Regions from separate parts of the Homo sapiens genome. Here regions 1, 2 and 3 are each linked to region 4. The links come from fine-mapping of genetic effects on gene expression. A gene starts in region 4. Each other region holds a variant in brackets. All regions are shown on one strand. Distances are between the middles of the regions.

Region 1 (8,248 bases), 70 kb before region 4:
ACACACACATACATATTTTTATGCCATTAAAAACTCTTCCATAAACATCCATTGTAAGGCCTGCCTAAGACTCCACTGGCTGGGTACATTATAAATTGCTTAATTATGACCTTCATTTTGCCATTTCTATTATTTCTCATTTGTCTCTATGACAAGTAATCCTGAAATGAACACTCATATTTAATACTTTGTCTACATTTCAGATTTTCTTCCTTTGAATAAATCCATAGAAATGTTAACTACTGCCTAGGGGTATGAACATTTTAAGATTCTTGGGCCAGGTGTGGTGGCTCACACCTGTAATCCTAACACATTGGGAGGCCTAGGAGGGAGGATTGCTTAAGCCCAGGAATCCGAGACAGGCCTGGGCAACATGATGACACCTCACCTCCACAAAAAATACAAAAACTAGCCAGGTTTGGTGGTGTATGCCTGTGGTCCCAGCTACTCAGGAGGCTGAGGTAGTCGGACTGGTTGAGCCCAGGAGGTTGAGGCTGCAGTGAGCTGTCATCACACCACTGCATTCAAGCCTGGGTGACAGAGTGAGATTTGTCTCAAAAAAAAAAAAAAAAAAAAAATCCTTAATACATACTTGATTAATGTGAATTGGAATAACTCAATCATGTTCGTGCATATTCTCATTCATTTCATTTAAAAGTTTTGCTAATTTGAGGAGGAAAAGGGAAATTATATTTCATGTGGTTTTAATTGGCATTTCCTTTATCCCTAGAGGGGGTGATTTTTTTTCTCTTAAGGTAGTGGATTTTGTAAGTGTCTGCTCCTGGTTCCTGAGGGGATTTGTGACAGTCACATATTCCTCTCAGGGTTGGGAACAGCAAAGCTGTTTGTAACTTCTAAGAAGTAATACATGGTGATTATCATACTAGAACATGCAGTCAAATCACTTGTGACATATCCATATTACAGCACAAGATTAAATCGACAATTTATTTAGACTCCTAGAATGAGAAAACACAATGTCCCCAGGGAAGGATAAAGAGTGGGTGACAGAAGGAGGTAATTTCTTTGCCTGCTTGTTTACCTACTCCCCTCTTTTCTTCCTCCCATCTCTCTTCCTTATATTATATGCATATATAATATATTGTATATAGATATACATCTAATGTGTACATTCTCATATATATTATAATTATAATGGAATTATAAATAGTCCACGATAATATAATATATGCATGACGTTTCCAGGCATCAAGAAGATTTACAGCTATAAAGCCAGCTGTCTTTCCTCTGGGGCATATACTGTAGTGAAGGCAAGAAGACACATGCCTCAGGATTGCAATGCAAGGGGGCTAAGCTTGGCTTCAGCACCTTTACAAGCATTCTCACCTTACCTACCAACCTGAGCTCCACCTTTTCTCTGAAACCCTCCTTGCTTTTCTTGCTCAGCCCCTTGCTGTGCCTGGAATTCCCTTATCTTATTACCTCTCATCTAACCTAATCATCCTTCAAGGGCTGCTCAGATGCCACCTCCTCCAGGAAGCCTTCTCTGATCCCCCACTCTTAGATGCAAGGCTGTCTCTTTCTGCACGCTCCACCTCTCCAATGGGCTTGGCACTTTAAACTTGGCATTGTGGCTGTTGCTGTACTTGTCTTGTGTCCTCAATTAGTTCTAAACTCCTAGAGGGCAGGACCTGATCTGATGCAGCTCTGTATCCCCATGTTACATACCTCAGCTCCTAGCATAGAAAAGGCAAACTGTAAATCTTCTGATAAAGGAGAGAATGAACACATCTATACAGTGTCCTTCAATTTCACAGTTTTCCCACATTATCTGCAATGTGTGCCTTGTGTGTACCAAATGGGTAAATGTTAAATGAGCACCCCTCGGTGACTGCACAGAGGTTGGTCCATGGGCAAGTTCCCAAAATGAAAGCAGGAACTGGGCATGTGAGTGTAGAATGGGCACAGGACTGGGAATCAGGAAGGTGCCGGGTTTCTACCCCAGCTCGGCCTCTACCCAGCTGTGTGACCTTGGAAGTTCATTGCCTCCCCTCTAGGCTTTGGTCTACCCATCTGTAGAATGGGACTTGGGGGTGACCTCCAATGCAAGGGTCTTTCCTTCTTACACATTCACCCTTCTAGCACAGAGTGTGTGTCAACTGCCCTGGCAGCCCCTGAAGGCTCAGTATTCAGAAAAGAGAAAGTAGCTGGGAGATACCAGGGCTGACATGTGCTCTCTGTTTTCTAGAAGGCTATGGAGCTTCCATAAAGATATATTTCATGTGAAACCTTTCCCCTTTTAGATTTCATAAGTTATTTTATTTACATACACTTATATACATGTGGCCTGTCTTAAAAAGTTATCATGAATGAAAGGCAACCCTCAGGCACAGCCCAGAAGATTAACTGTCAAAATGTAAAGATGAGTTCATTTTCTATGGAAAAAAATGTAAATGCATAAGAAAGGACAGAGAAGTTTCCACACCTAACTAATAATAATGGTCTCCTTTGGGGAGGTGGGGAGGAAACTGAGGTTAGGGGCTCCAAAAAAACTTTAGTTTTATCAACATTCAATTTTTTAAGGAGGATATGCATATAATTTTATGATTAAAAATTAAATAATGAATAAGTTAAAAGGCCCAAGTGGTATTTAATGCTGCACTAATATAATTTTGAGTCTTGATACCTGTAAGGGTATTTATCTTTATTTTTATTTCCCCAGTTCCCTCTCTCTCTCTCTCCTGTCTAAATGTGAGGATTGGAAATCATTTCTAGCAAGAAGAGCTTGATTAAATAAAGGTGCTTGATATGGTTTGAGTCTGTGTCCCTACCTAAATCTCACGCCAAATTATAATCCCCAGTGTTGGAGGTGGGGCCTGGTAGGAGGTGTGACTGGACCATGGGGGTGGGTTTCCCATTTGGTGCTGTTCTTGTGATAGTGAGTTATAAGATCTGTTTTTTGTTGTTGTTGTTTGTTTGTTTATTTGACACAGGGTCTCACTCTGTCGCCCAGGCTGGAGTGCAGTGGCACGATCTTGGCTCACTGCAACATCCACCTCCCGGGTTCAAGTGATTCTCATGCCTCAGCTTCCCAAGTAGCTGGATTACAGGCGTGCGCCACCACACCCAGCTAATTTTTGTGTTTTCAGAAGAGATGGGGTCTTGCCATGTTGGCCAGGTTGGTCTCGAACTCCTGGCCTCAAGTGATCCCAAAGTGCTGCAATTAGAGGCATGAGTCATCATGCCCGGCCAAGATCTGGTTGTTTAAAAGTGTGTAGCATCTCTACCGTCTTTTTCTTTCTCCTGCTCCAGCCATGTAAGATGTGCCTGCTTCTCCTTCACCTTCCCTTATCATTGTAAGTTTCCTGAGGCCTCCCAAGCCATGCTTTCTGTACAGCCTGTGGAACCATGAGTCAATTAAACCTCTTTTCTTTATGAATTACCCAATTTCAGGTATCCCTTTATAGCAGCACGAGAATGGACTAATACACTGCTTTAATTTACAAGAACACTTTGCAAGAATTAGGACTCCTATCTCCTAAGATTATATATTTGCATGGAAAAGAAGCAGGTTGCTTGAAGAAAAGAATCAAGAATCAAAACTTTGCAATGAAGGATAAACTTGAAGTAAGAATAATAAAATAAAGAATGTGGCTGGGCACAGTGGCTCACACCTGTAATCCCAGCACTTTGGGAGGCCGAGGTGGGCGGATCACAAGGTCAGGAGATCGAGACCATCCTGGCTACCATGGTGAAACCCCGCCTCTACTAAAAATACAAAAACAAAATTAGCCAGG[C/A]GTGGTGGCAGGTGCCTGTGGTCCCAGCTACTTGGGAGTCTGAGGTGGGAGAATGGCGTAAACCTGGGAGGTGGAGCTTGCAGTGAGCCAAGATCGCACCACTGCACTCCAATTCCAGCCTGGGCAACAGAGCGAGGCTCCATCTCAAAAAAAAAAAAAAAAAAAAAAAAAAAAATGCAGTTCAGGAAGAGGAGGTTGCAGACATACTTACAGAAGAGGTACCATGTTTTCTGGGACTGGGCATCAAGCCTGCTTCTGAAAGTCCTGGCAGCCAGGGAGGGAGAAAGAAAAATGCGATTTCTTCCATAATGCTTCTCATCAGAAAGAAGAATGCATTATAATTATACTGAGGGGCAAAGCTTGCCATGATATGCTAAAAGAATTTTATGTAGGTATCATTATTATTGTCCCACGAAGAAACTGAGGCTCAGAATGATTTAGCATCTTGCCTAATATCCCCTAGACAGCAAGTGGGATGGCAAGATATTAACGTGGTGCTTTTCCGTTAATTATCTTTTTCAATCCTAGTGACAGCAGTAAGAAATAGGCATTATTGTCCCTGTTTTAGAGATAAGGACATGGTAGCTTCCAAAGGTTGATGTGCTCAAGGGCATATAGGGAAAAGGCAAACTTGGATGCAGGCCCACATCTTAGGACTTCAGTGCCAGGAGTTCACAAAAGGCCTCTGCAGCACCTCCTCTCCCATTATCATGCCCTCTCTACCCCTCCAAGCCCCTTTGTCCAAATACTCAACTGCTTGCTATTCTGCAGACACACAGTCCTTTTTGCCTACAATTCCCCATCACTGGAGTGCCCGTCATCACTGCCCTTCTTGGAAAAGCCTTCTCATTCTTCAACATCTCAATCAAATTTCATTCTTTCTTTGCTCTCCCTTGTATTCATGATCATAACATCATTTGAGCACTTCTCAGTATGCACTGTAGTTTTATATTTTAAAAGTATTGTTAGCTGGGGGAGGTAGCTTAGGCCTTGTAATCCCAGCATTTTGGAAGGCCAAGGTGGGAGGACTGTTTGAGCCTAGGAGTTCGAGGCTAGCCTGGGCAACGTAGCAAGATCATCCCCATCTTTACAAAACATTTAAAAATAAACCAGGTGTGGTGGTACATGCCTGTGGTCCCAGCTGCTCTGGAGGCTGAGGTGGGAGTATCACTTGAGCCTGGGAGGTAGGGGCTGTAGTGATCTGTGATCACACCACTGCACTCCAGCCTGGGTGACAGAGCGAGACCCTATCTCAAAACCATTGTGCTGCTTTTTGAGTTGCCATCTGCCATGGAACAATCACCGAAATGCATATTTTCATAAAAAGTTTTACAGAGAAGACCATCCACTCTTGAGGTTGAACCCTCAGATATGATGAAACATGCAAAGGTCAAGATCAGGAGAAGGAAGGAATTCCTCCTGATCAGCCTTTGCTGATCTTTGTTGGCAAGCACCTGGGAGATTGTATTCATCCGTTCTCATGCTGCTGTAAGGACATACCTGAGACTGGGTAATTTATAAATGAAAGAGGTTTAACTGACTCACAGTTCCACAGGGCTAGGGAGGCCCCAAGAAACTTACAATCATGGCAGAAGGGGAAGCAAACACGTCCTTCTTCAAATGGCGCAGCAAGGAGTACAGAGCAAAGGGTGGGAAAAGCCCCTTAAAAAACCATCAGATCTCGTGAGAGTTCACTATCATGAGAACGGCATGAAGTTAACCACCCCCATGATTCAGTTACCTCCCACTGGGTCCCTACTATGACACGTGGGGATTATCGAGACTACAGTTCAAGATGAGATTTGGGTGGGGTCACAGCCAAACCATATCAGAGATTAACATGCTTTGTCTGTCTACCACATTTGCAAAGAGTGCACTCTCCATCTTGTGTTGAGATTTCACAATGGTGTTAAGAAAATGAAGTCTTGTTGGCCGGGCACGGTGGCTCACGCCTGTAATCCCAGCACTTTGGGAGGCCGAGGCGGGCGGATCACGAGGTCAGGAGATCGAGATCATCCTGGCTAACACGGTGAAACCCCGTCTCTACTAAAAATACAACAGATTAGCTGAGTGTGGTGGTGGGTGCCTGTAGTCCCAGCTATTCGGGAGGCTGAGGCAGGAGAATGGCATGAACCCGGGAGGTGGAGCTTGCAGTGAGCTGACATCATGGGCCACTGCACTCCAGCCTGGGCGACAGAGCGAGACTCCCTCTCAAAAAAAAAAAAAAAAAAAAGAAAAGAAAATGAAGTCTTATGCAACTCCCATGGAGACCAAAGAGAAAGAAGGTTAAGCTGGCTGTCCTGAAATACCATAAGGTGGATGAGAATGGCAAAATTAGCTGTCTTTGTAGGGAGTCCCCTTCAGATAAATGTGGTGGTGACATTTTTAAGGCCAGTCACTTTGACAGACATTATTGTGGGAAATGTTGTCTGACTTATTGCTTCAACAAACCAGAAGACAAGTAATTGTGTATGAGTTAATAAAAGACATGAACTAAGAATAAAACAAAATAAATAACTCTTGTCCTCTCCAGATTCTGAGTTCTGTGAAGATCTGGATTTTATCTGAATCATCTTTATATGTCCAGTGCCTAGCATTGTGTCTGGCACATAGTAGGTATTCAATAAATGTTTGCTGAATAGATATGTAATATCAATGAAACTGCCCTTGTCCTGGATGGTGAAAGGCACACCATGACATTTGACAGTATGCCTATCCCAGAATAATTTATAATTTCATTGAAAATATGAGAAGTGACACCCATGAAGAAATTAGAGAACAAAATAGGTATAGTCAGATGCCATATTGTGTGGTTTAAATTCTGAGTGCTGAGGGGGAAAAGAAAGATGACATCTTTGGGGTGCTAGAGGGGGCTTTGGGGATGTGAACCCCCAAGGTGTGGGATGAAGTTCCCCCCTGTAGTAGGTTCCATGATAGCTATGCAACAGCATTAGTTGCTCAAATAAATTGAAGAAAGGCTGTTTCTTTGATACATTGATGGGCAGAGTGACTCTCAATGGGACCATGGAATCTTAGACCCTTTAGTAAGAAGGATAATAAAAATTGTTTTGCCAAACAAAAAAGGAAGGGGAAGCCCAGAGAAATTCACCTCTGTTGATTTCAACCAATGTTCTTTTTGTAAAATTTAATTTGTGTAAAATGTTTAAATGCATGATTTAATTTTTAATGCATGATTTAAGTTTTAATGCATGATTTAAATTTTAATAATTAATAACTTTAATGTCTATGATTGAAGGTTAAAATTTGATAAGCAATTTAATTTCTAAGCCTGATATTTCTATTTTCTCATAAAGTAAAATATGATGGGATTAAAGGCAGGACAGACTCACCCTTCCTGGTTTGTGATTGAGAAGGTCACCGATGGTCATAATTGCCTCCTTTTTTATGTGCTGTTGCCCTGCTAAGACATTTCTTGAAACACTTCATACTGTACTCACCCAAGGTTTCTAAAGCTGTCAATGTCAATTGCTTTTGTTCTTACCCTAACACATGTTGTCACATGAGAAACATAAAGCCTTTCTTGTGAAGATAAGGTGAGCTATTATGGGTGCCTAAAAAGACTTGGAGATTAAGGATACCCTCTATGACAGTCAGGTCATGGCAAGAAGCAGAATGCACCCTAGATGGATCAAATGAAGACACTTGAAAGAAAAAGATACTTACACATGAGCCGATAATAGGGCACCAACAGTGGATGTTAGGGCACTCAGAGACTAGCATCTGAGGGATGGGGGGAGGGAAGCTGTTATTACCCTTATATCTGAAGGAACAAGGAGAGTAAATAGTGTTACTGGAGCCCAGTATGAGCTGCACCAGGAAGAAAGGAACCACCCAAGAGGAGCTGTAGGTATGGGGGGTGGCAAATACTGCCAAAGACAGGCATGACATCAGGGAGACGGAGAGGGAGAAAAAGATTTGATCTCACTCTCTTCCTGTCCCCAGTCTCCTGCTAATGTCCCCTCTGGCCATACCCAACCAGAAATGAGCTGTCAAGGGAGGCCAGGAGGTGCATCCACAGAGGTCAGGCTTTGTGGCATGGAGCAGGGCAGAGAAGAGCAGAGAATAGATCTGAGTAGGGTGTGTGTGTGTGTTGCCAGGGAGCAGGGGGTGGCCAGCCAGGATGTTCTGAGAGCCCAACTAGAAAAAGCCGCACATGATGGATGCCATCAGCTACTCTGAAGCAACTCTAGTCAGGTAACCAAAGGTTGAGCAGACCCAGGATTCCACTCACAGTGCTTTGGATATTATTCTTGGGAAGCAGAACTGGAATATAATTTCAGTTAAGGAACTCTGATTGAAAATTAATTGCATTGTACCCAATCTGGGAGTTGTAAGAACTCTCGGAGTTTGGACAGCTGGGGTGAGAAGGCTCGGAGAGCAAGAATTTGGCCATGTGTCTCCAACACTATCCAGGGGAGAAGGTAGGCTCACTATAAATCCCCTTCAAGCCTTCCCCCAAAGGGGAGTGA
Region 2 (5,000 bases), 84 kb before region 4:
ATAACTCCGTGGGAAATTATACCCCAGGGCCCTTTGCTCCTGACTCCCCACGTGGAGCAGAGAACCACTCAGATGCGTGCTTCCAGCCCCCACCTCGGACGACCCGCTGTCCCCCTCTCACGGCTGTTTGCCCGGGCGTTCTAGGATGCTCTGGTATTAGAGCACCCTGCCTGTTCCTGGCCCCCTGAGCACCAACAAGCCCGTCTCAGGCCTCCAAAGCTCTGCATACGTTGCCCTGGCAAGGTCAGACCCTTTGGCTGCAACACGTCCGTCAAGAAGCCAGGCAAATCTAGCATGCAAACTAGGATCATTTTCGGGCGTTGGGGCCCCCCCGCTTGAAATCTGGTTTCCATGTTCACAAAACGCAGCCCGACTGGTGGAACTCGCGACTCCAGACGCAGAGAAGCTGTGGGCAGAGGCGGAGGCAGAGGGTGGGAATGCAGCCTGGCGTTGGAGTGGGGAGAAAGGGGAGGGAGGAACCGCGCGCCCAGGCCCCGCCCGGTTGCCTAGGTGACGGGGAGCGAGAGGAAGAAGTGGGGGCTGAGCTGATCCGAGCATTTCAGATCTTAATACTGAACAGCTCAGCCCCCAAGAGGGAGTAGGATGGAAGCCCCAAGCCAAGGGAGTCATCTTCATTATTTTACCCTGGTACCTAGTGTTCTGCTGCTCATGGAGAAACAGAATGTCAGTCCTGGAAAAGAGCTTGCGAAGTCTCCTTGCCCAGTGGTTTTCAAGCAGGTTTGTAGCTAAAGATTCTCGTTTCAAAGAAAACCTTACCAAGAACCTCAGTTTGCGAAACAGACCTATAGGGAGCTAAGTCACCCCACTTCACCTTCCCAGATTGTGGAAAAACTCTGGTCTGGGCCCAAACCCTCCTTGTAGAGATGGGAAAACTGAGGTCCCCAGACAGGCACTGCATTGCCCAGGGACACCCAGGACATAAATTCGCTGCAGAACCAGGATTGGAAACGATCTCCCAGTGATCACCATAGAGCAAGCATGAAGAAGCGGATCCTTTGAAGTAGCTGGGAAGAGAAAAGGCACACAGGATGTTTTAGGAACCTGGAATTTCCAGACCTGCTGAGACAACACAATCCCCTTATTTTACAGACGAGGAAACTGAGGCCCAGAAAGGAGGCAGTGGCAAGTTAGTAGAGTGGTCCTAAGTGGAGTAATATTCCCTTAGAAAGAAGATGCATTTGAGCATTTGGCTTTTTGGCTAGCTCAAGCAATAAATCTTTGCTGAAATTCTGAGGTGCCAGATGGCGCAGGGGAGGAGCACTGGCCTGGGAGTTTCATCCCCCTCTGTTACTGACGAACCCCATGACCTTGGGAGATTTATTTTAAAGAGTCAAAGGGATCATCCCCAGGTTTGTAAGAGGTCCAGAAGAGTAATAGGATTAAATGGTGCTTCAGAGTGTTTTATATTGTTTCTAAATGTCAGGGCCTCTTTGGGGGAAGGGAAGTAAGCACACTGCTCTTTAAAGACTGAATTTGACAGTGGGTTTTTTAAACGCTCTTTATTTTTCTTTTTCATTTTTCATGGCTAATTATAAAGTAACACATGGCCATTTCAGAAAATGTGTAAAGTACAGAAAATGAAAGGAAAAAAAAGCAGAAAGGAAAATCACCCATAAACACATCACCCAGAGGCAACCATTGTTATACATTGTTGTACATTTCCTTTCAGTCTTTTTTCTCTAATTTTTTTCTTGTGCAGCGTAAATTGTATTTTTAATTATGTTGTAATTTTTAATAATTTCATTTAATTGTTTAATAATTAATATTAAACTTAGAATATTAAAGCTAAAGATCTGTCTGATCACCACCCACAGCCCTGGGTTCTTTGATGTATTAATTTTGCAGACCATTTAATTTTTTTCCCACTTATTTACACTCATTTTTCATTTATTTATACCTATTTCATTTATGTAGACCCACAGGAAATGTACAGTGTAATAATAAATGTATATATATATATTATATTGTATATGTGTTTTACACAATGGTATAATGTTTTCTCTGCAATTTGCTTTTTTCTTTTTTGCTCATTTGACACCTATATTATTC[G/A]ATCTTATGTATAAGCCACTTTGTATCTACCCATTTTGTTCTTGATGAGCATATACATTGGTTCCAATTTTTTGCTACTGTGATAAATTCTACAATGAATAACCTTTGCATGTTCTTCTGCACAGGGGCTAGTGTTTCTCTGGTGGTAGATGCACGGAAGTAGAATTGCTGAATATGCATTTATTTACTTTTAATCCACACTGCCAAATTGCCCTCTAAAGCTACTGCGTATAATGAGCATCCTTGTTAGCTTATAACACTGCTTTGCTTGATTATAAGACTTCACTTTTTTAAAAAAACTTAAATTTTTTAGAATCTACTGAGTGAAAATAATTTATTTTTGTATGATTTTCCTGATTATTAGTATGATTAAGCATATTGTTTACTGGCTATTTAAAAAATTAGTTTATAGAGTTGCTTTATATATTTAGGCCACTATCTTTTTTTCTGTATCTATCACAAGCATTTTCCTCAGTCTGCTGATTATTTTTTAATCTTGTTTGCAATGTCTTTTGACATGCAGAATTTTAAATACTTAATATGGCAAAATTTATGTATTTTCCTTTATAGATTTTTGTTTTTTGTTCAAAAAGATTTGATCTACGTTTTTCACTAATAATTTTAAGTATCTATTTACTTATCTTTTTTTTAAACATTAAAACATTGACTCCATCTGGATTTATTTTGGTGTATGTATGTGATAGGAATCTAATTTTGTTGCTTTGCATATGGGTCGTTAATTGCTTTAATACCAATTATTGAATAGTCTTTTTTCCACTGATTTTGAATACCACCTCTATCATATACCAAATCCCCATATAAACGCAGATCTATTTCCTGACCCTTTACTCTTTTCCATTTATCCATTTATCTCCTTTTCTATTTTTATGCAAATACTACACTGTTTTGACTATTGATTTATAATGTATCTTAACAGCTGATGGGCAATTTACCCACTTTTTCTGTTTCATTGCCTTGGTTCTTCCTGTACATGTATTCTTCCATACGAATTCATTTATGAAGGTCTGTGAAAAGTCTTTTGAGTAATTTGATTGTTATTGCATCAAATTCATACCTAGATTTTGAGAAATGTATCTCGAATATAGCGTCTTTCTATCCAAGAATCTGACATGTTGATTTATTGGGTCTTTTAAAATGTGTTTTAGTCAAGTTTAAAATCACCTTCATAAAGATCTTTTACTAAAATTTTTCCTAAAGACTTTATAGTCTTTGTTACTATTGTTTTTTTCCAATTACATTTTCTCATAGCTTATACTTGTAAGTAGAAAGGCAATTAATTTTGGTACATTGGTACTATTAATTCTGACAGTTTGTTCATTGGTTCTTTTAGGTCTTCTAGAGAAGGCAACCAAATCTCATCTGTATATAATTAATGCTTTGCTTTGTCTTCTTCTCTTCTAATATTTATATGTCTATTTTGGAGGTAATCTTATTGCATGAAGTTGGGTATGATGAAGAAGGGGAATAGTGGGTATTCTAATCTTGCTCTTGACATTAATGAGAATACATCTAATGATGTACCTTGTTAGTAGGCTCAGTGCTGTAACAGAAAACTCCAATACCTCAATGGCCAAACACAACATACTGGATTAAGGTGGGCCCTAAATCCAATATGACTGGTGTTCTTATAAGAAAAGAGAAATTTGGACCCTGAGACAGACACACAGGGAGAATGCCATGTGATGACTGAAGCAGAGATTGGAGTGATGTGTCTATAAGCCAAGGATTGCTGGCAATCATCAGAAGACAGTAAGAGGCTAGGAAGCCACCTCCTTCAGTGAGAACATGGTGTCACCAACACTTTGATTTCAGTTCTAGCCTCCAAAACTATTAGACAATAAATGTCTATTGTGTTAAGCCACACAGTGTGTGGTAATTTGTTATGGCAGCCCTAGGGAACCAATGCAAAAGCTAAGTTAATTCATCATTAGTCTTTCTTGCTTTATAGTAAGTGCAAGTAAGTTTATATATTTCCCTGAAGACTACTTTAACGTCATCTTAAAGTAGTACTTCAGTTAATTCTAATTTTATTGTAGTTTTTTGTCAACTCATTAATTATTTAGACCTGTGTTTTAAAACTTCTCGGTGTATACAAATTTCTAGCCATCTTCCTGTTGTTGTTGACATAAAATTTTATCATTAAATGTTTTATATTATTTCACTTTACTTACTTACTTATTTTTTGAGATGGGGTCTTGCTATGTTGCTCAGGCTGGACTCAAACTCCTGGGCTCAAGCAATCATCCTACCTCCTCCTCCTAAGTAGCTGGGACTGTGCCCAGCTATATCACTTAAAAAATTTTTTTGGAACTTACTGTGCAGTTAAATACTTAGTCAATACTTAGTCAATTTTTATAAATGTTCCATTTGTATTTGTGAAGAATGTACATTTTCTATTCAAAGTTCTACATATATCCATTACATTGACAGGTCGTCTGTTCTTTGCTGTGTTAAAGACTAGCTAATTGATGAACAAACTTGTTCCCCTTCCTCCTGGGCACACAACTAGGCTACATTTCCTGGACTTTTTGCAATTAGATGTGGTCTTGTACTGAGTTTTGGCCAATGGAGCATGAGCAGAAATTATGTGTGCCACTTCCAGGCCCAGCTTACGTGTGTTTCTCCTTTCTGTCTGTCACTATGAATGCCAAGATCTCAACACACAGAGTGACCTTGGCAACTACATGTTGAAGGTGGCAGAGTTTCTATCAGCTTGAATTCCTGGCAGAGACCCTTCCTCCGTGCCCCACAACCAAACATTGAACTTTACGTGAAAAAGAAATTAACCTCGATTGTCTAAGTGTTCAGCTACTCTTAGTTAAAAGTTTATTTGCTACAGTTGCTAGTGTGACTTAAACTAATACTGTTTTGCTCTTTAGATACTCTATACTTTTTTGTCTTCTTGATTT
Region 3 (8,201 bases), 190 kb after region 4:
AAAGAAGTGGGTCACGCCTGTAATCCCAGCACTTTGGGAGGCCAAGGCAAGCAGATCACGAGGTCAGGAGATTGAGACCATCCTGGGCAACATGGTGAAACCCTATCTCCACTAAAAATACAAAAATTAGCTGGGTGTGGTGGCACGTGCCTGTAATCCCAGCTACTCGGGAGGCTGAGGCAGGAGAGTCACTTGAATCAGGGAGTCAGAGGTTGCAGTGAGTCCAGATCGCGCCACTGCACTCCAGCTGGCGACAGAGTGAGACTCTGTCTCAAAAAAAAAAAGAAAAAGAAAGAAACCCACATCTGGACATGGTGTAGAGAAACCACAAAGCTCCAAAAGCAAAGATCTTAAAAGTAGCCAGAGAGAAAAGAAACCTTGTTTACAAAGAAACAAAAACTATATGGTGGCAGCAACAGTGAATTTAGAAGACAGAAAAATATCTTCAAAGTGTTAAGAGAAAGTTAACCCAGAATTGTGTGCCAGCAAAACTGTCTTTCAAAAATGCATGTAAAATAGAAACATGAAGGTGAAATAGGAACATTTCAGAATAAAACCGAGAGATTTTACCACTAACAGGCCTTAACTAAAACAATTTCTGGAAGATATACTTTAGGAGGAAGGAAAATGATCGCAGAAGAAGGGAAACATTTCTAAAAATATATAACTTATCATTGCAATGCAAGAAAGAATGATGAGCAAATCAATTATTAAGTATGTAAATAATTCCAAAAATTGTCTGCAAAAACTTATAATGAAAGGTGATGATGGTGTATAATTTGTGGGGTTAAAAAAGGACAGAAACAAATACTGGACAATAATATTTATAGATGGGGGAAGAAGGCCCGAGGTTGGTGGGGAGAGTTAGACTATTCTAAGTTCTTTGTATTCTTCTTAGAGAAGGTTCAAGTATTTGTTCACTTTAGATGTTGTTAAATGTGCATGGTAAAATTTCAAGGGTAATCACTAAAAACAGAAAATGTGTAACTTCCATACCAGTAAAAAGTAAAATAGAATAAGAAAACAAAAACCCAATGCAGAAGAAAAAGGAAAAAAATAAGTTTAAAAAAGGAAAACAAATGGAAAGCCAAAAAAGGGTATGGTAAAAATCTAAATATATCAGTAATCACAATAAGTATAAATGGACTAAACAATAAACTAAAAGACACATTCTTAGACCTAAATTAAAAAAAAAATAGACATACCTAAAATAAAAGGACACAGAAAAGATGAAAGTAAAATGATGAAAAAAGATATAACAGGCAATACTGTTAGGTTGGTGAAAAAGAAACTGTGGTTTTTGCTATTACTTTTGTGCCAACCTGAAGTTAAAAGAAAGTTGGTGTAACTATATTGTCATTTGACAAAATAGACTATAAGAGATAAATAAGGACTTTATACAATGATAAAAGGTTTTATTTATCAGGAAGATGTAATAGTTCTAAAGTTGTGGGTACCTACTAAAATAGCATCCAAATATATAAAATAAAAATTTATAGAATTATGAAATGAAATTGACTAATCCACAGACATAGTGGGGTATTTCAATACAATGCTCCCAATTATTGATGAGTCAAGAAAGATTTGAATAACACAATTCACTAGCTTAATTTAGTGAATTTAGTGAATAAATTACCTTGCATTCAACAATCAAGGAACAGGCATTCTTTTCAAGGACACTTGGAATATTTTTAAAAATTGACCATATAAAAGGCCATAAAACCAGCCTCAACAAATTTCAAGAATCTGATTTACATAAACCACATTTTATAATCCACAATCATAGATTTAACTTAAGCAACCAAATTAGAAGTGCATAAAAGAAAAAGAAGTGACACATCCACTAGGTTTTGGAAATTAGGAAGTATACTTCTAAATAACTTGTAAGTCAAGTAAGGAATCATAAAAGAAATAAAAAGTTGAACAGAATCAATGATAAAAATTACACTTATCAGGACTTATGGATGCAGGAAAAATAGTAATTCAGGGAAATTTATAGCTTTAGCTGCTTTCATTAGAAAAGAAAAAAGACTGAAAATTAATAAGCTAGGCTTCACTGTAAGAAGAAAAAAACTCCCAATAGAATAAACCCAAAGAAAGCATAAGGAAAGAGATAATAAATATAAAGGAAAAATTAATGAAGCAGAAAACAAACATGCAATAGAGATGATCAACAAGCCAAGGCCAGGCCAGGCGCAGTGGCTCACGCCTGTAATCTCAGCACTTTGGGAGGCTAAGGCAGGTGGATCACTTGAGGTCAGGAGTTTGAGACCAGCCTGGCCAACATGGTGAAACTCTGTCTCTACTAAAAATACAAAAAAAATTATCTGGGCATGGTGGCACATGCTTGTAATCCCAGCTATTTGGGAAGCTGAGGCAGAAGGATTGCTTGAACCCAGGAAGCAGAGGTTGCCCTGAGCTGAGATCGTGCCACTGCACTGCAGCGTGGGCAACAGAGCGAGACTCTGTCTAAATAAATAAATATATACATAAAATAAAATAACAAGCCAGGGGAGGGCCAGATAAAATAGATAAATGTTGGGCAAGATTCCTTTAAAAAAAAAAGGGGACAGGGCCGGGTGCGGTGGCTCACGGCTGTAATCCCAGCACTTTGGGAGGCCGAGAGAGGCGGATCACTTGAGGTTGGGAGTTCGAGACCACCCTGGCCAACGTGGTGAAACCCTGTCTCTACTAAAAATACAAAAATTAGCTGGGCGTGGCGGTGGGTGCCTGTAATCCCAGCTACTCAGGAGGCTGAGACAGGAGAATCGCTTGAACCCTGGAGGTGGAGGTTGCAGTGAGCCGAGATCGCACCACTGCACTCCAGCCTGGGCGACAGAAGGAGCCTCCATCTCCCAAAAAAAAAAAACAAA[A/C]AAAAAAACACAGTAGCATTCACAAATAAGCAAGAATATGAATGAAGAACAGAAGAAAGCTGCAAATATGGAAGAGATGAAAAAGATAAACATGCCATAAATAACATTATGCTAGTAAATTTCAAAATTTATTAGAAAGGGAAACATTTCTAAAAACATATAACTTATCAAAGCTGCATCAAGAAAGCCTGGAGACTTCCAGTCCAAAACTGGTGGTGTAGAAGCAAGCTGGCTACATTCCTTCCCACAGAAAACCAAAAACAAATACACAGTGCTGAGATGATCAGCACTATGCCAGCAATATTCCAGAACCCAAATATGAGGATGAGGCAGTTCCTGGAGTCATAGAGAAGTGAAAAAGCTCTGAGCAGTCAGTAAGATAAATGGATTTCTACATCCATGACTCCCCTCCCTATAATCTGCCCAGCACCAAGTGTGTGGGAAATTTCCCGACTCAACGATTTCTGCACTGGAAAAAGTGAGATTGAGGTGGACGACTAGCTTTTCCACCATTGTGGGTTTCCTGGCAGGAGACCTTGCCTCTGCCTCAACCCATGGGAAGCATCATGATTGCCTGAAGGAAGAAATATCTCTGAGGACACTGAGAGACCAAGGAGGGAGGTGGGGATACTATCCCTAGCCCTAGAAACATGGTTCTGTAACTCGGCCAAAGAAGACACCAAATCAGAGTGGCTGTTAGCAGCACCACACTGTAGCAGCTGCATTCCACAGGTCTCCTGGGCACTAATCCCCAGCCAGCCTATCCATACTGCCAGGATATCTGCTCTGGGACCTCCCCCATTTGGAACTTCAGTGTTCCAATTGTTTATTAGAGCCGAGGCAAACCTGGGCTTAAGAAATCATCTAGTGCCAAAAAGGAGGTAGTGACCTAGTGGAAAATAAACAAACAAATAAGAAATTCAGCAGTATATTACAAAGACTCTATAAGCAAACATACCCAATAAAAAGCAAAACAGGCCACACAGAGAAGACTAGAATAAATAAATAATCCTTCAATGCAAAGATGTAGATGTATATCCACAAGAAATAACAGGAAACAGGAAACCATGGGCACCCCAAACAGACAAAGCATGGAACCAGTGATGGCCCTAAGAAGATGGCAATATGTGAGCTCTCTGACCAAGAATTCAAAATAGCAGTTTTAAGGAAACTCAGTGATCTACAAGATAATACAGAAAATCAATTCGGAATTTATTAAATTTAACAAAGATTGAAATTTTTAAAAATCAAATCTTGGAACTGAGAAATACATTTGCTAAATCAAAAAATTCATTAGAGACTCTCAACAGCAGAATGGATCAAGCAGAGGAAAGAATCCATAATCTCAAAGATAGGCTATTTGAAATTACATAGAGGAGAAAAAAGAAAAAAAGAATACAAAGGAATGAAGATTGCCGACAAGATATGGGAAATTGCCTCAAAAGATCAAATCTAATAATTATTGGTGTTCAAGAGGGAGTTGAGCAAGAACAAGGGGTACAGAACTTACTTAAATAAATAATAAGGAGACTCCATCTCAAAATAAATAAATAAATAAATAAGGAAAAGAAAAATAAGTGCTTAAATAAAATATTTTGTCAGAAAAATAGAAACTAATGCCTTTTTGTTCACGTGACTTTAGTAACCTTTTGGAAATAAAGACAGTTTTAAAGATTATTGGTAAAATAAAATGTCTTGAAAGTGTAGACATTTGGTTTAAATTAAGGTCAGATATCAGACTTGCTAAATGCTTTAAGGTCAAACTGTTTCTTTGACTTTTGAAAATGGTTTGATTTACCTACTTTGGAGCATTAGATGATAGGTAAGGCCTGGGGACATGTGGAGAGCCATGCCCACCAGCTATGCTAAGAGTCAGACCTTATCTTCATTTCTGTCTAATGTCCTAAGCTCCACCCCAGTACATAATTGAAATTGCTTACTTACCAGGTTTTTCACTAAAAATAAAAGTTGCTAAGCGTTAACATTGTAATATGTAGTTGAGACGACTGCAGAAACAGTTTTATATACAAGGTGTATGGGGAATGTGCTTTTCGTAAAAGACTGTAAGAAGTCACAGAAATACGGCTTTTGTTAAAGGGAATGTAATTTTGTCTAGTTCAGAGGGTTTTAAACATTGTCCTAACCTAAAAGAGTAATGGAACAAAACTGAAGGTTTAAGCAAAGTGAAAAGGGTTTGTAAAACCCTTTTAAAATTCTGTGAGTATAAACAAGTTGGCTAAGATTTAAAAGGAATTATTTAGCTTTTTTCCTTAGGTTAAAACACTGAAATCATACTGATATGGGGCCAGAATCTCGGCCTACTTTTCCGAATAACAGAGTTTTCTTAGAAAATTAATCTGCTGTTTGATGGAAAATTGTAAAGGGTTCTAAAAAGTTCATGAAAATCTTACCTTATGGTCAAACTAATTAAGACTGGATAGATATAAAATTTTATTTAAAAAACTAGCTTTGGCTGGGTGCGGTGGCTCATGCCTGTAATTCTAGTGCTTTGGGAGGCCAAGGTGGGTGGATCACCTGAGGTCAAGAGTTCGACACCAGCCTGGCCAACATGGTGAAACCGCATCTCTACTAAAAGTACAAAAATTAGCCAGGCATGGTGGCATGCACCTGTAATCCCAGCTACTCAGGAGGCTGAGGCAGGAGTATCGCTTGAACCCAGGAGGCAGAGGTTGCAGTGAGCCGATATTGCGCCACTGCACTCCATCCTGGGTGATAGAGCAAGACTCTATCTCAAAAAAAAAAAAAAAACACAAAAAAAAGGATGGGCATGGTGGCTCACGCCTGTAATCCCAGCACTTTGGGAGGCTGAGGTGGGCGGATCACAAGGTCAGGAGATCGAGACCATCCTAGCTAACACAGTGAAACCCCGTCTCTACTAAAAATACAAAAAAAATTAGCCGGGCCTGGTGGCGGGCGCCTATAGTCCCAGCTACTCGGGAGGCTGAGGCAGGAGAATGGAGTGAACCCGAGAGGCGGACTTTGCAGTGAGTTGAGATAGGGCCACTGTACTCCAGCCTGGGTGACAGAGGGAGACTCCATCTCAAAAAGATCAAAAAAACAAAAAACAAACAAAAAAAAAACTAGCTTTAACATTAAAGATGCACTAATGCAAAATAATAATAATAATAATAACAGAAAACTTTCCAAAGCTCAAGAAAGTTATAAATATCCAAGGACAGAAAGATCAGAGAACACCAAGCAGTTTTCGCCCAGGTAAGACTACCCTAAGGCATATAATAATCAAACTCTCAAAAGTCAAGGACACAGAAAGGATCCTAAAAGCAGCAATATAAAATAAGCAAATAACACATAAGGGGATTCCAGTTCATCTGGCAACAAGACTTCAACAGAAACCATAAAGCCAGGAAGGAATGGGACAGCATTTTCAAAGTGCTGAAAGAAAAAAAAAACTGCCATCCAAGAATACTATATCCAACAAAGCCATCCTTTAAATATGAAGGAAAGATAGTCTTTCTCTGACAAACAAAAGCTAAGAGAATTCACCATCCCCAGACCCGTCTTAAAAGAAATGCTAAATGGAGTTCTTCAATCTGAAAGAAAAAAACACTAATGTGCCAAAAGAAAACATTTGAAAGCATAAAACCTACTGGTAAAATTAAGAACAAAGACAACCCCAGAATACTCCAATACTCTAATTAAGATGTAAAATTCACTCATAACTCTAATATAAAGCCTAGAAGAGAAATCTATCAAAAACAGTAGCAGCTACAGCAACCTGTTAAGAGACAGGCAATAGCGGCCAGGCACAGTGGTTCATGCCAGCACTTTCGGAGGCCAAGGTGGGTGGATCACTTGAGGTCAGGAGTTCGAGTCCAGCCTGACCAACATGGTGAAACGCTGTCTCTACTAAAAATATAAAAATCAGCCAGGTGTGATGGTGCACACCTATAATCCCACCTACTTGGGACGCTGAGGCAGGAGAATCACTGGGTTGCAAGGAGCTATTGTACCATTGCACTCCAGCTTGGATGACAGAGCAAGACTCTGACAAAAAAAAAAAAAAAAAAGAGAGAGAGAGGCAATATAAAAATATGTGAATTGAGACAACAAATAGTCAAAATGTGGGGAGATGGAGTTAAAGTGCAGAGGTTTTTTTTTTTGGTTTTGCTTTATTTCTGCTCTTTTTTGTGATCTAAGGTAAGTTATCATCTCTTTAAAATAAGTTATCGGTTTTTTTGTAAGCACCATGGTAACCATAATGTTAAAACCTATAACAGATACAATAAAAATAAAAGGTGGCCAGGCGTGGTGGCTCATGACTGTCATCCCAGCATTTTGGGAGGCTGAGGCTGGCAGGTTGCTTGAACCCAGGAGCTTGAGATGAGCCTGGGCAACATGTTGAAACCTCATCTCTACAAAAAAAGTATAAAAATTAGTTGGGTGTGGTAGCACATTCCTGTAGTCCCAGCTACTTGGGTGGCTGAGGTGGGAGGATCACCTGAGTCGAGGGAAGTTGAGGTTGCAGTGAGCCATGATTGCACCACTGTACTCCAGCCTGGGTGACACAGTGAAACCCTGTCTCAAACAAAACAAAACAAAACAAAAAACAACAACCAGAAAATAAGCAACAAAATGGCAGTAGTAAGTCCTTACTTATCAATAATACACTGAATGTACATGGGTTATTCAATGTTATTATTAAGTTTAATTGGAGAATTCAGTCAATTCTCTAATTAAGAGACAGACAGTGGCTGAATGGATAAACAAGGCCCAACTATATGCTGGGTGATATTAACTAATATGTTATTATCACATGAACACAATGAAGAATAAGAAACCCAACTTACCAATAGAGACACACATAGACTGAAAGTGAAGAGATGGAAAAAGACATTCCATGCAAGTGGAAACCAAAAAAGAACAAGATTAGCTATACTTATATTACATAAAATAGACTACAAGTCAAAGACTGTAAAAAGTGACAAAGAAGATCAATATATAATGATAAAGGGGTCAGTTTAGCAAGAGGATATAACAATTATAAGTATCTATGCACTCAACACTGGAGCACCCAAGTATATTAAGTAAATATGAATCAACCTAAAGGCAGAGATAGACTGTAATACAATACAGTAGGGGACTTCAACACCCCACTTTTCAGTAATAAACAGATCATCCAGACAGAAAATCAACAAAGAAGCATCAGAATTGAACTACACACTAGACCAAATAGGCCTAACTGACGTTTACAGAACATTTCACCCAACTGCTGCAGAATACACATTGTTTTCATAAACACATGTAACATTCTCCAAAATAGACTATATCTTAGGCTACAAAACAAGT
Region 4 (6,686 bases):
TAAAAGTCCAGATTTGTTGTCACAATTTCCAGCAAAATAAATTTAAAAGAAGCCTATGTGGTTATTCTTGCCGCACTTATGTAAATAATCAGGTCAAGTTTGAAACTAAATTAATTTTAAAAATAAATTGGTCTTACCATGATTATCTTTGGTAGAAATGGGAATGACTGTAGAGAGAAAAATTATGTTTCTGAAGAAAACCATAGTACACCTGTTACTAGATTGCAGCTTTGTTCATTGTTTTTGAGTTTTTATCATCTATCTATAGACTAGCCTGGATCCTGAGTTCTTGTTGCCTTCAATATCTGACTGCAATTCTCCAACCATGAACAAAAACTGCTAAGCTGAACAACTCGATATAAATTTCAAGGGACAAGTCCCATGCTTGATGAGGGAGCCACATAGAGAGTTTAGCAGAACACCTGATGCCACAGCCAGAGACATTTAAACTGCAAACCAGGATGAGAAATTGCTGACATCATGTTGTGGACAGCGTTTTCCAAGACTGTCAGAATAAGACTCGCTACCATGATAAGACTCCTTCCCTTCTTAATTTTTTCTTGCTTATGCCCACCTCTTCCACTTGGCAGGATAATGCTGTAGTTAAAATTTCACAATTAGTAGTTTTTGTGGGTAAGTTGATAAAGGGTCAAACCCAAACATTTACAGGACCCAAGAGAGCTTTTATTCCACCTAGTGGGTAACTTTAGCAACATCCCTAATGCAACTGTTTGTTCAAATTTTACTAGTGGCCTCTTTTGTAGAGTTAGCACTCTTTGCTTTAATTTAACCCATTTCTGAGATGCTAGATGATAGAATTGCTGCGTACTAACCAAACGGGGAAATCTGTGCTGTTGCTGTCACTTCTTGTTGTACATAAATAATCTGGTATTGTAGAGACTCAGTTTCAAAAAGTTAGCAGGCTACTTGGTGAAAACAGGTAGATTTCTCATCTGGCTCATTCTTTGATCTATTTGATTTTAGTTGGTTTGGTTTATGGCAACCCTAGCTAAGAAGCATACTCCGAACTCTTGGCATTGTCCTCCTGATAGTCACAATTCTCAATTATGTTCTCTCAAAAAGTTTTACATATTTGCATACAGCCAATTGTTGAATGTCATATGGTCTCTCTTCAGCTGCAATGACAGAAATACAAAATCATGAGGACACTGTAATCTATAAATGATGTGTTGAGACTGGAAACACAGAATGATGTTAAATGAGGGTAGTGCTAATGCCCTCAGTCTTAGTCACAATTTCACCTAGGTTGTTAAATAAAAATCATGGGATGCCATTGTTTTCAACCAAATTCCTGCATCAGGCCTCCAGATCAGACTAAAAATCAAAATGGTGTCACCCATGTTCACCAAAACAAAACTGAGTTATCTGGTTTTCCAAAAAATGGTAAGAGAGATAGCCAATTTTCCAAACAGAAGTTTCAATCTTTAACAGGCATGATAATGAAATTTCCTGTTTTAATCCTTAAAATAGAATACCTGAAGTAACCCAATGTTAACCAATCAGTTTTCTTTCTACTGTTCTGTCTCCACGTCTCCACCTTAAAGAAAAGTGACTTTGATATAACCAATCTGCTTTTTGTTGTTTCTGCCTTCTTCAGTCTATTTTCTGTCTCTAAAGTTAACATCCTCTGCTTGATTCATTGCAACATTTATTCTATTTTGTGGAATGAAGTTTTGTCCAATTCTAGGAGTGCAATAATGCCAATGAGATCTTGAATCTCAATTTGTTTTACTTTTGTTTCTTGACAATGGAGAGGTTTAGGCTAGAGAGCATTTTCAAAGTCATGAGCATATAGACTTCAAGTCAACCAGTTAGATGAGATCACCTGGTGATAAAATAGAGAAGAATGCAAGGACCGAGCCCTGGAGCAGTCCAACATTTAAAGATTGAGCCAAAGAGGAGAAACCAGCATATCAAAAAGGAGGCCCAGTGAGGGAACAGGACTATCTGTGACGTGTAGGTAAGTTCAGGGGGAAAAGTGTTTCAAATCAAAGGAACCATGTCAATTATTCGCGATTCTACAGAGAGGTCAATTGAGATATGGATAGAGAATTGGCAATTGCCTTTGGAAACAAGATCATTAGTAATCTTGATAAGTGATACAGATGATGGAAGCCAAAGCTCGATCAGGGTAGACTGAGAAGTGAATGTGAAGTGAGAGGTAGGAACAAGCACTATTGGAGAGATCTTGAAAAACCTTTCTAAGAATTTATGAAGATAGCAGAAAAATAGGGCAGTTCCTAGAGGCGATTTTGGAGTCAAAGGAAGTTTATTTTAGATGGGAGAAATTTCAATATATTTATATGCTGATAGGAGCAATTCAATTGAGAGGGAAAAAACTAACGATGCTGGAGGGTAGGTAATTGTAAGAGTAAAATCCTTAGGAATGTGCGTGAAAAAAATCCGGTCACTGGTAAAGGGACTGGCCTTCCTAGGCGCAGGGACACTTCATTCATAGCAACCCAAATGTTACTATGCAGATAAGGGTGGTTTTGATGGTGAGAAGATAAGGGAGTTTATTTCTGATATCTTTCATTTTTTCCATGAGTTATGAGGCAAAGTTGATTAGTAAAAGTGGGGGTTGGGGAGGAGGTATATAGAAGGCTTTCAGTAGAGACGAAAAGGAATGAAATAATCCTTCCATCAAGTCTACTTAAATGTCAATTTAGTGGATAAAACCCTCCCAGAATTAAGTACATCTCCCAAACCCTTTCTCTCTCTCAATGACCTTTTGCTCCTTTCTGGTACTCACTAACATTTGCAATTGTATCTTTGTTCGTTCACTTCTCTGATTCCCCATTAGAGAACTACAGAAGGGCACGGACTTTGATTTCAAAATGTATATTTAGCCGTTAGCACAAGGCAAGCAGATGGTCACTAAATAAATACTTTTTTAAACAAAAATGTTAATGAACACCTTCAAAATTTTGTCTTACGCCACCTCGTTAAAATACTTGTTTGTGCAAGTCACTTTTCCTCTCTGAGCTTTCATTTCTGAATCTATACCATGGGAATTATCTCTTCCTTGCCTACCTCCCCTCGTTATCAAGAGGATCTGAGCCAATAATGATAGAAATGCTTCATTAAGGGCCCCTTAAATGTAATGGATTTCTATTTTTAGCCCACTGGTAGCCTCGCAGGTAGCAGGTGCTGAAAAAGCCTTGCTTATTGGGGGTTGGGGGACAGCATTGTTTCTGTGACCGTAGGCGTCGAAGCTATGCAGAAGCGTTCCGCGGACCGCAGAGAGATGGGGCTCAGGCCAGCATCCCTCTCGCTCCGGCCCTTCCCGGGAGGAGCTGGCCGAGCTAGGATGGGGGGCAGGGAGACCGAGGGGGCAGTAACTGTCAAACCTCGCCGCTTGGCGCCATTATTTAAATGGAACGTGCCTGTCTCGCAGCTGTACGTGCCCGGGGCGGGGCTTCGAGCGCCCTGAGCGGGGCGGAGGCTAGAGGCGGGCTGGGAAGGTGGAGGGGCGGGCCGGGGCGGGGCCAGGCCGGCTAGAGGGGCGGGTCTAGCGGCGGCCCCCGGCGAAGTTCACTGCGCTTGCGCTGACAGACGCAAGATGGCGGACAGTGCGGAACTAAAGGTAAAGCGCAGCTCGAATTCACTTCTAATATTCGGCCGCGGAGACGGCGCCGCTGCTGCCAGGGGGGATGGGTCCGACCCTGGGGGGCCTCTCGGGCCTGACTCCACCCGGGCCTGGAGTTGTAGGGAGAGAGGCGCGCCCGGTCTCAGCAGAGGGGGCCCGCCTGCGGCGGGCCGCGGGCCCCGGGTGCCTCGGGGGCGCTGACGGGTCGTCCCCGGCGTGTTATTGTTGTGGGCGCCTCTGGCGGGGGTGGCGGGGGAAGAGATAGGGAGTCCGGAGGTAGGGGCTGCAGCTGTCTCATGGGCTCGGCTTTTTCACCTTCCAGTTAGCCTCCCTGCCCCCCATGGGGAGCTGGGGCTGGGGGCAGGGTGCTCTCGTAGGGGGGATTGGGAAAGCTCCCCGTGGCCGCTTCCTCTTCCTCCTTTGCAGTCCCGGGCTCCTGTCAGGCGCTCTTCTCAGACCCCCGGGAACTTGGCTTCGGCCGCCCCGCCCCTCCGTGGATCCCAGTAGCCCCCGCCCCGGACTCGGCTTTCCCCGGCTGCTCGCTTGTCAGGAAGCGCCTGGGGTGCCCCGCTTGTGGGAAGCGCGATCCCGGGGCGATAGGGTGGGGATCTGGGGGAGAAGCTCTGGTAAAGTTTAGCGAGCCCCGGGCCGGCGTTGGGGTTCGGCTGAGAGGTAGTGAGCGGGACGTTACTCTTTCTCTCTGATTCCGGGCAGCCGAGGGGAGAAACCCCCTCGAAGAGTGTGTCTTTGGAAGCAGTGTTGGGAGGGGGGGATGCAGCTACCTCTCTCCCTTCTTTTGCCTTAGCTGGTGTGGAGGGTGAGAGGAGCCTTTGGGGGTCTCTGCACACACCATGATGGCGATGCTGTAGCTGATGGAGGTGAATGGTTCGTGTTTATATCCCCCCATTGCCTTTTGTTTGTAGGGACATCTTGCTGGCCATGTTGATTTGAACGAAATTCTCCCCTCATGCTACTCCAACCCCCGATAAATAGAACGTTCCTCTTAACAGTACCAATTACTCACGCCTCACGAAATTAGATGAAAGGGTGCCCCCTTTTCCCCGCTTTTCTCCCACCCCAATCTTTACCTGATGATGGCTTCTTTACCGTAGCAGATATACCACTACACAAGCAGTTGGGGGAGGGGGTGGTGGAACCCTTATGACTGGATTGTGACAAATGGGGCTCCGCTTGAATAATTTTGGTTTAGTAGCAGGCAGTTCTTAACTAACGCGTATTATTTCGAGGCTCTGAACGCGATCTTCTCTGTGGCTTCCTGTGTGTGTGAACCCAGCAGCTGGTTATGTCTCGACCCAGAGAACTGACATCTCTGTCAGAGAGGAGATGGGGATATACAATTGTAAATCTTTGGGGAGAGTCTTCTTTTTATAATAAATAAAAATTATTTAATTTTTTCCCCGTTATAATGAAACGACAACTTCTAGAACAACCAAATGCCAGATTTGATTCTGTAGAGTTTTTCCTGTGGAATATCCTCACCGAAAGAGCTTTTCTCCTAATAACTTCACAATGTTTACACTCCAAGATTCGTATGTTAAGGTATTGGCTTTGAGTGTCATTCTTTTAAAATGTACTTCTAATTACAAATTTACTGAAGGGAGAGCAGATTTACAATGGATGGTTTTGATTTTTCCCCAGTTTCAAACTATTGACTGAAATGAGAAAGCCTTAGGAATTTGAATATTTGGAGATAATTAACCCTTGAAATAAAAAAAAGCACACAACTTTAAGACATGTTTTCTATAATTTTTCTCTTAGAGTCACTATGTTGCTGTGATCTTTGCCTTGTAATATTTATTTTGTTAGGAGTTCTTTTGAATGATAGCTAATCAGTTGTTATACATGGACCATAGAATAAAGCTGAAAAGCATGTGCAGACTATATTGTCACTCTTGATGCTGTCCAAAGAAACTAGTATGGAAAGCACATGCTGAGAGATTTCCTTCTTTGTTCTTTCTCATTTTAAGAAAGTGCCTTTGGGGATAGATCAGATCCCTGGTGTGAGTCTTGTTAGGTAAAGTTTCTCTTTACGAAAATGAACCAGTATCAGATAAACACCAAACACTTGAAGAAATGTTATTTTTCTAAAATTAATCTCGTTTTTTGTGCTCTCCCAAATCTACTAGAGTTTTTCCAGAGGAAGTTTTTTTTTTCTACTCTTATGTTCCTGTTGTATAATTTTTCAAATTATAATAACTGTTTTGACATGTTGGTATGTCATTGTGTGTGTCTGAGACTTTGAGGAGCTGTGTGATAAATTGCTTAGCTGGTGATAGCGGCGTTAAAAAAATTTGGTTAATACTTTATTGTGGTTAGATTTGCTGTTCTTTTTTTGAGGGGTGGAGGAGGTGATCTCAGGAACGCCTACCATAGTTATTTGAGAATGTGTTAAAAAAAAGAGAATGTGTATATATAATTTTCTGTGCAGTAAGGTTTGGCAGATACTCCTTTTGGAAATGATATTTTCTGAAGGCTTTTTGTTTGTGATTTTTTGGAGGTAAATATCATACATTCCTAATATGATAGGAAAAATCAGAGTAAGAAGAAAAAAATCTAGATTTTTTGAAATTTTAAATGGGAATAGAGTACTTCAACTGTGAAGCTTTACATAAAACTCAGTGACTTTTCATTATTTTAGGTTTCAGCCCCATACTTCATTTTGCTGTGGATTGTATTCATAATTATTTTCCTCATGGCTTTTTTAGTGAGTCCTTTTAAATCTATAAGAAATGTGCAAAGATCAGATGGGAAAAACAGATAGATCTTTATCCCCTGTAGGAATTGTGCAAGCTGCAACACTTCAAGATATTGCCAATAAAAATTAGATTGTGAGTCATACATATCAAAATGAATTCTCTATGCACATTTGTTTATGAAAGGTTTAATTTTTCATTAGGGGAGTACCCATAAATGTCATTTTTAAGAATGTGGAGGGTATTTTGTCATCTTTAGGAACTTAGAAGCAGGAGGGTGTGATGGCCAGATGATCTTGGTAGTTAATAAGCTGACAGCTTCATGAAACTCCTCTTAAAGTAATTTAAAAAAAAATATGTGT

Which allele goes with the higher level. Alleles are on the strand shown, and positions count from the first base shown. SD is a standard deviation of normalised expression in the study named. Not every link is listed here.
As copies of C replace A in region 1, the expression in uterus of the gene that starts at base 3,572 in region 4 goes down (moderate effect, 0.62 SD a copy in GTEx).
For the expression in tibial artery of the gene that starts at base 3,572 in region 4, G is the high allele of the variant in region 2 and A is the other (small effect, 0.32 SD a copy in GTEx).

Evidence for each region. PIP is the estimated chance that this variant, and not a neighbour inherited with it, causes the effect.
Region 1: its variant is the best candidate, but not a certain one, in a credible set for the expression of PIAS1 in uterus (GTEx, PIP 0.57).
Region 2: its variant is the best candidate, but not a certain one, in a credible set for the expression of PIAS1 in tibial artery (GTEx, PIP 0.71).
Region 3: its variant is the best candidate, but not a certain one, in a credible set for the expression of PIAS1 in whole blood (INTERVAL, PIP 0.88).

What each region holds. Positions count from the first base shown.
Region 1 is chr15:67,980,021-67,988,268 of GRCh38, forward strand. No RefSeq gene overlaps it. Among named protein-coding and RNA genes, the nearest start is that of PIAS1, 70 kb to the right of the region's middle. The variant C/A (reference allele first, on the strand shown) is at 3,759.
Region 2 is chr15:67,967,850-67,972,849 of GRCh38, forward strand. No RefSeq gene overlaps it. Among named protein-coding and RNA genes, the nearest start is that of PIAS1, 84 kb to the right of the region's middle. RefSeq lists an enhancer at 644-1,560. The variant G/A (reference allele first, on the strand shown) is at 2,071.
Region 3 is chr15:68,238,129-68,246,329 of GRCh38, forward strand. It overlaps a transcript of CLN6 not described here. Among named protein-coding and RNA genes, the nearest start is that of CLN6, 13 kb to the left of the region's middle. The variant A/C (reference allele first, on the strand shown) is at 2,874.
Region 4 is chr15:68,050,744-68,057,429 of GRCh38, forward strand. It overlaps PIAS1 (protein inhibitor of activated STAT 1), which reads left to right and starts at 3,572. Exons shown (of 14, transcript NM_016166.3): 1 at 3,572-3,607. The coding sequence starts at 3,584. RefSeq lists a silencer at 3,371-3,870.